2 linked regions of the Homo sapiens genome follow. The protein of the gene in region 2 interacts with the protein of the main gene of each other region in a biochemical or structural test. Each region holds a gene or a part of one and is shown on either strand. Other genes may lie near its edges. The genes, in order: LRRK1 and GNAZ.

Region 1 (4,016 bases), on a different chromosome or scaffold from region 2:
ATGCAGGTTTACAGAAGTTGAATGATTGGTCTTGAACATCGTTAAGCTCTTGGCACGTATTTTGCCAGATTTTCCGCTACACTTGCACCACCTTTAAGACCAATAGGATATCATCGTTTACAAATATTTGTCAATCCCTTAGTATGTACCAGGCACTACATGTACAAAGTTCAGAACTTTACGAAATAATGTCATAAAATCCTCACGACAACCTGGCACATGGTACTTTTATTTCCGTTTTATAGCTGAGGAACATGAGGGTAAGAGAAGCCTGGAAACGTGTTCAAGGTCAACAACTCAGAAATCACAGAATTGCCATCTGAACCCTGTCTTAATGCTGCAACACTCATTCTTAAATGCTAGGCCACACTATGGGAGGTGAAAGGGTCAACAGGTTGGGTCTGAGAGGCCCACGTTTGTACCCTTAACCGTGTTAACTAACGATCGGCCACTGTACCTGGCTTGGCAGACACTTTGTTCAGTTGTTTGAGTGTTTTCACTCCATCTGAAATGTCCAGCAGCTGACCAGGGTGATGTTTCTGGAAGGTGTCGTTTCACATCCATCACATTATGAAATGGGAAACGAATTTGCTTCTTGACATTGCCCAGCACTAAATCTTTCCAGAGTGTTCAACTTGCATCTTTGTAAATTTTCTTTTTCTTTGTATTAGACGTGTGTCTTTTTTCAGTTGTGTGGTAGGAAGACCTTGCTCTGTTGGTGTGAGATCGAGGTGGCGTGGGTGATAGAACGCAGTCCCCGATTTGGGGGTAGCACCTCCACCTTTCCAGTGCACGTGAGGCTCCCTTATCCTCCTGCTGCTCCTCTTCGCAGCCCTGAGGGACGAGGGTGGGGACAGGGACCTTGGGTCTGTTTGGGGCCTGTAGGGTAGGTGACTGTGTCATCTGAAAAAGCCCACAGGAGGCGCTGCTCCCTCCCCTCCTGGTCAACAGTTGGTGATCTAAAGGAGTGCTTCTCAACCACGGCCCACACAGTCACTGGGTAGTGGCTCAAACCGGCAGGGCCCTGGCACCACCTGGACCCACTGGAGCAGCATCTTGGGGCAGGGGGGCGGGGAGTGAACAAGCATGGGTAATTTTTTCTTTTTCATTTTCTTTCTTTCTTTTCTTTTTCTTTTCTTTTTTTCTTTTTTTTTTTTTTTTTTTTTTGAGACAGTGTCTTGCTCTGTCACCCAGGCTGGAGTGCAGTAGCATGACCTCAGCTCACTGCAACTTCCACCTCCCAGGTTCAAGTGATTCTCCTGCCTCAGCCTCCTGAGTAGCTGGTACTACAGGCGTGCGCCACCACGCCCAGCTAATTTTTGTATTTTTAGTAGAGACGAAGTTTCACCATGTTGGCCAGGCTGGTCTAGAATTCCTGACCTCAAGTGATCCACCCACCTCAGCCTCCCAAAGGGGTGGGATTACAGGTGTGAGCCACGGCGCCCGGCCAGCATGGCTAATTTTTCAAAGTTCCCTAGTGATTCTAACGTGTAGCTAAAGTTGAGAATCAGGCCATCTAAATGGTTTGAGTCCCATAGAGCAGCACTTCTCAAATTATCAGGTGCACATGTCCCCTGGGGATCCTGATGAAATGCAGAATCTCATTCAGGAGGCCTGGGGCACAGACAGCCTGCGTTTCTAGGTCCCCAGGGATCCCCCGTTGATTCTTACAGGTCCCAGGGACCGGGGCGCAATGGGCTTTGGACAAACCCATCCCCACCTCCAAGCTCGTGGCAGGACAGATAACCAGAAAATGTTAAGGTGTTCCGAAAGGCCAAAGTGTGGCACTCCCCAGCCCCCATGATTCTCCCTAAAGGCCTGCATCTGAGCTTGGCACTGCTCCTTAGGAGGTGTCCTCTCCTGACTCTGCTCTGATGGCCTCTTTCCCCAGTGGGATCTCAGGAATCCCTGCTATCCCTGTTCTGTATAACCCAAGGGACACACACAAGGGCCAAGGACCCTGACGTGACCTCAGCAGCCTTCACTGTGTACTGTTCAAGGAGCTTGAAGTAGGGACAGGACAGGGAAGTGACACCCTGGGAACCCCTGAGAATGAGGGAGGTGTTTGTGCAGTGACCTAATACAGAGAACACAGAGTTGAAGAGGAGAGGAAGATAGCCTGAAACACCCCAGAAAGTTCTGTCCCCTGTTTAGCATTAAGAAAATTATGTTACATGTTAATGAATTACAATAATAACCAAATCCTCATAAGGAATCTGGTGAGAAGCTACTAATTTATACCCATACTCAGAGTTTTAAGGTCCCACAGGTGGTACCAGCAGAACTGAGCCTGTGAGCCCCAGCCCTGGAGCTCACTAACAGAAGTTATTAATTCCAGGGACTAAAGCCTACAGTGCTCCCTCTGTAAAGCCCAATTTTAACGCATTGCATGTTGGATTTCATTTTCGCAGAATATATTAATAAATGTGTACACTAAGACTACAGCCAAGGAGCAGGTAATGCTCAAAGGGTGGCGTGTGGCCACGTCTGTGTGCTGGGATTGCAGTCACTGTGCTTTGCTCATCGGTGCTGTTTATGTTTCCTGCAATATCTACACATTGCTTTTTGTTTTGTTTTGCCTTCTTTTGCATCCAGACGAATAATATTGCAAGTTATTTTTAAATTATTGTTTATTTAAGTACTGATGATTTGTGTTTAGAATCTAAACGGTAAACCTCCTGTGCTTACATCCAAAGTTAGATCTGCCTCCACTGGCCTCTTTGCCTTGAAGTCTTTCTGGAATAAATGCGGAATACTTGACTTACTATGACTGCAGCTGATCCCCCCGCAGGACTCACCCTCTGCACATGTCCCCAGAGCCTAAGCTGGATTTGTCCCATCCCACCTTCTCCTAGACTTCCTGGGATGATAGGGAGCCCTGTTTCCCCTCTCCCACCCCCCAAATCCACCAGCCTCACTCAGGGAACACTGTTCAGGCCTAATTTCCAGCTCCGGCTGAGAAAAGTTGGCCGCCAGAAGGAAAACTAACGACACTCAAAATTATGTAGGGACAGCTTTCTCATGCTTTAAAAATCCTTGGAAGATAACGTGATTGAAAACGACGACGTTCTTATTATACTTCCACGTGTGCGTTAGAAAAAGACCCACACTTTAAAAAAGAGTGTCTACTCTTGGGTGTTGGGGTAATGGTATTTTTAATTTTTTATTTGTGTACTAGGCACGCCTTTTCACACCCCCTACCTGTTGTGACTTGCGTGACCTCAGCTCATGTTTGTTTACAATGGTTAATCCTTTCAAAGCCCCTGGATGTGGGGGGCTTTGCCCAGCTGGTGTGAGGCTGGGGTCTGTGTGTGTCTGCCCTGCCGTGCGGCCCGCTGTGTGTTTGTGCAACACAATTGTGTCCCAGGAAGGTGTGTGACAATCTCAACCTCATTAGCACCAGCAGCAGTCAGCTCGCCTGCGGTGCAAGAGGAATGGTTGGAAAGCTTTGATGGGCGTAGAGTTTGCCAGCTGACAGAGCAGCTGTCAATGAGATGCTGGGCATGGGCTGCAGGACGCGCATTACTTTGACAAACATGTCATTAGATGTTCATTCTTCTGAGTATGTCTGACACCAGCCAGAGTGGAAAAACCAGTCCCGCCAGCCAAGGAGAGCTGTCCTGGAAAGTAGAGAAGTCAGGAAACTTCCACATAATTCAGGTGGAGAATACTTGGGAAGACTTCTGGATTGCGGAGGGTGGGTGGAACTTGAGCAGACATCACCCAGGCAGTGGCTCGCCCCCCCAGCTCTCTGTGAGTGGCCGTCGCTTCGGTCCTGAAAGCCCTGCCACAGTCACACACCTCTCAGAGCACTGCCCACCACCGGACCCAGCATGGACCAAAGGAGGAGAAGGAACATTCCAGAAGTTCTTCAAATCCCAGGTTGTTTCATGGCTACTTCCAATGTCTTGTTTTTTTCTCCTTTGGCTTTTGCGAATCTGTATTTGAAATACAACTCCTTAATATAGGAGCTAAGAGGTTTGCTCAAGTAGGGTCTCTTCCTGCCTTCCAGAAAT
Region 2 (3,500 bases):
CTATCCTGAAGCCATAGTCCGAGCAGATGGGAGGAAGGACTACGGTTAGTGAACACAGTGTCCCCATCCTACAGACAACCCCAGGCTATGCCCCGGCTGGGCCTCCCAGTGTCCTTCTGCTAAAGGAAGGGGAGATGAGATGACCGGGGAGATGAGATGAACAGGGAGGCCCTTCCCTGTAACCCTGTGCTGTCCTGGCTCTGGACACCCTCAGCCACCTGTCCTGTCTTTTGGCCCACAGCCACCACGGCTGACCAGACAAAGGGTGATAGTGTCGCCTGAGGAACACTGACTCAGGAGGAAATCAAGCCAGATATTTCTCTGGGCCAGGAGTAAATAAATAAATCAATATGCAAAGGTTCCACCTATGGAGGAGAGGGTGGCCATGACAGCAGAGAAGAAGTGGGGCCTTCATTAAGAGCCAAATCAAAGAGGTTGCTGCCTTGGAGAGAGCCGTAGCCCCAGGCTCCTGGCTCCCCAGTTTCCCCAGGGAAGGAAACTGCTGACTCCATCAAACCCTCACTTGAGTGGGGAATCTGATTTCACCTTCTGGGTCTTTGAGGCCCTGCAACCTCCTGCCCTCTGCCTCCATGTGTGGCATCCCACAATCCCATCCCCTACCTTGGGGACCTAGGGGCATGAGTGGTGTCCACTACATGCCCAGCACGCCTTCCCTGCGTCCCTTTCCTTGAGAACTGAGGCTGGCACCACAGGTTGTGGCTGGACCCAGCCAGCCTCAGGGGAACCCTTAATTGCCCTGACTGTCCAGAATTCTACCACTCACTCCCGCTAGCCAGCCCCAGCCTCTCATCTGTTTTGCAGCAGTATGACTTCTCTGGTCTTGCTGTCTCCAGCCCCCTGTGCCCTGTGCTCCACCAGCAGCCAGGGGCATCCTTGTAAAAATGAGGCAGAGTATGTCTCACTTGTGCTTGAAACCTTCTCATGTTTGCTCCCGACGCTTGCTTGACATGGGCAGACCCCGAGTCAAAGTCCAGCCAGGGCACCAGGGCTGTGCAATGCCTGGCCTCTCTGACTCCCACGCCCATGCTCCCCCTCCCCCACTCCTGCCATGCTGCCTCTAGCTGCCTCTCTAGCACCATCCCTCACTCTTAACTCAGGGCCTGTGCACTGGCTGTTCCTTCCTCCTGGAAAACTCTTTGTCCAGAAAGCCAAGTGGACTTCGCTTCCGCGCCCTCTCCCCATCCAATGGCTCAGATGTCCCTTCCTTAGGAGGCCTCCCTGCCCATCCTATTTACGATGGAAAATGACCCCCATATTCGCACACAGCCACACCACGTGTGCTGCCTTGCCCCAAGCATGGTCCCTTTCTAGCACACTGTATAATTTACTTAGAGTGTTTATCGCCCACCTCTTTCCCACTGTGCCATAGGGCAGGGACTGTTGGTCTGTTTGTTCATTGATGTATCCCATGTGCCCACATGGACCTAGCACCAAGCAGGTGCCAATAAATCAATCCCAGGCCCTCGTAGTGACTGAGTGAGGAATCGGTCAACGTGGCTCACGGAGGGGATAGTTGGGGACTTCTGGGAGGTCTTCTGGAAAGGCCCGTGGCCTTCCCTGGGTGGACACGGGTAGACGCACAGCCCCCGCCCACCTGGACTTGGCCGATCCTGATGCTGCCCCACGACTAAGCCCTCAGGCCCGGGAGCCAGGATGTCCCCTCATCTTGTAAGCCCTTTGGGGCTGGGCTTCTGTTGCTACCCCTGCAAGTGTGCTCCCACCCCACATACATTGCATGGCCCCTCAGCCCCCTTAGAAGCCCTGGCCCTCACCCTTGGCCTTCTTCCTGTGCCAGTGATGGGGATAATCCCCCAAACCCTGGCCCACCCAGAGCCTGGGGCTGCAGCCCATTCCCTGTGGTCCCTGGGGACCGCAGTGGCCACACCCTCCACACCTCCTCTATCCATTCCACACCATCCTGGGAGGAGGGAGAGCCCCAGAACAGCCAGCGTGGCAAGACAAACACACTGGAGACTGAGGCCAAGCACTCCAGGAGCCACGACAGAGATGGGGGTGTCAGTGTGGCCAGGAGACTCCTTGGAGGAGGTGGGCAGTGTTGGGGGGACAAGGGCAGCCCCACCAGTGCCTCTGTGTCCCAGCCACGGGGTGGGGCAAGGCTGGGCATGGCTGTGCTTGCGTGCGTGGTGTTATCATAGAGGAAATCAATGCCTGGCACTGGCCCAGTGTTTAAGGGAAATGAATAGATTTTGGCCGAGGACAAAGAGAGTTTGATTAATCCGAAATTGGATAATGGAGGCAACACTCTAATTATTTTTCTTCCCAGCATTTCATCGAGAAATATGTTTGCACAGCATATCAGAGGTAACTGAGCGGGTGAGGGGGTGACCATGCTGGAGGAAAGCCCAGCTCGGAGACAGGCCACCCGCACCCGCCCTCACCAGCAGGGGTCCTGGTAGCCACTCTACAGGGCCACAGGAAGCAAGAGGGCTGGGTGGGGCTGGCCTGAGGCCACATGCAGCTGGGGCAGCTAAGGCCAGAGGGACATGCCATGCAGAGCTGGGCAGGAGGAGGCATGAGGGCCAAGCCCTCATGGTGGAGTTGCTCCTCCCCTGGCCTGGCCACAGTTAGGGGTAGGGCCACTAGTGTGGGGGTGCAAGAGGAGTAGGGGTGAGGTACCACCAGTTCACAGGGGGTCAGGGCCTGCTGGGGTCAGGGTGAAGGCTGTAGGTGCCAAGTTCTCCCACCCATAGTCAGAAGGGTCTTCAGAAGGCCCCTCTTGGCAGCTTGGAAGGTTTTCCCAGCTTTGCCTCTGGGGAAGCCTGATTAGCTGCTCCATAGCCAAGGTCAGACAGGACCACCGGGCCCCACAAACACAGAGCCTGGTACTTTACATGCCTCAGCCCTCCTTAGTCACCTTGCCCCCTCCTCCCTTGCTGACCCCACTCCTGCAACACCTGGAGCTGAAACCACACGGTTTAGCACCTTGTTTCCGTGGCCATCCAGCCTCCCAATTCCAAGAAGGCTTCTAGGGGCTCCTTGCTGGAACAGAGATCAACATCAGGTGTACATCCAAGAGGAGGCTCCCGGCCTTGTAGAGTGGTTGAGTCTCTACCACTCATTCACTTATTCATTCTTCAGTGTACAGAAAGAGGCTGCCATGAACGAAGCATGGGGTTGGACCCTGAGGTCACTACAGGGAGTGAGGCATCAAATGAGAGAAGAGACAGTCAGCAAGCAATGACCTGAGCTGCTCATGGGACTCAGGAAGACGGAGGCCAGTCCTTCCCAATAAGGGGTTAGCATCAGTGTCACTAAGGAAGGGGCATGTAAGGAGAGATAGGGTGGGTTAAAGCTGCTAGATAGGAGGGGGTACAGTGGTGAGGTTCACCAGTCACTGGCAAGCTCATCTAAATCCTGCCTCCCGTGCCCGCTGCAGACATCACTAATCGACCATGACTCTTTCCCTCTGGGCTGCAGCACAGCCTTAGAATCCTCTTCAGCACAGCATGCTTTGGACG

What was found.
Region 1: the proteins of GNAZ (region 2) and LRRK1 form a complex in vitro, tested with the Homo sapiens proteins (2 studies listed by BioGRID and IntAct, with this or other methods).

The regions. Positions count from the first base shown.
Region 1 is NC_000015.10:100,925,536-100,929,551, forward strand, and holds part of LRRK1 (leucine-rich repeat serine/threonine-protein kinase 1), read left to right. Parts: intron 1-4,016.
Region 2 is NC_000022.11:23,077,019-23,080,518, reverse strand, and holds part of GNAZ (guanine nucleotide-binding protein G(z) subunit alpha), read right to left. Parts: intron 1-3,500. UniProt on the Homo sapiens protein: Guanine nucleotide-binding proteins (G proteins) are involved as modulators or transducers in various transmembrane signaling systems.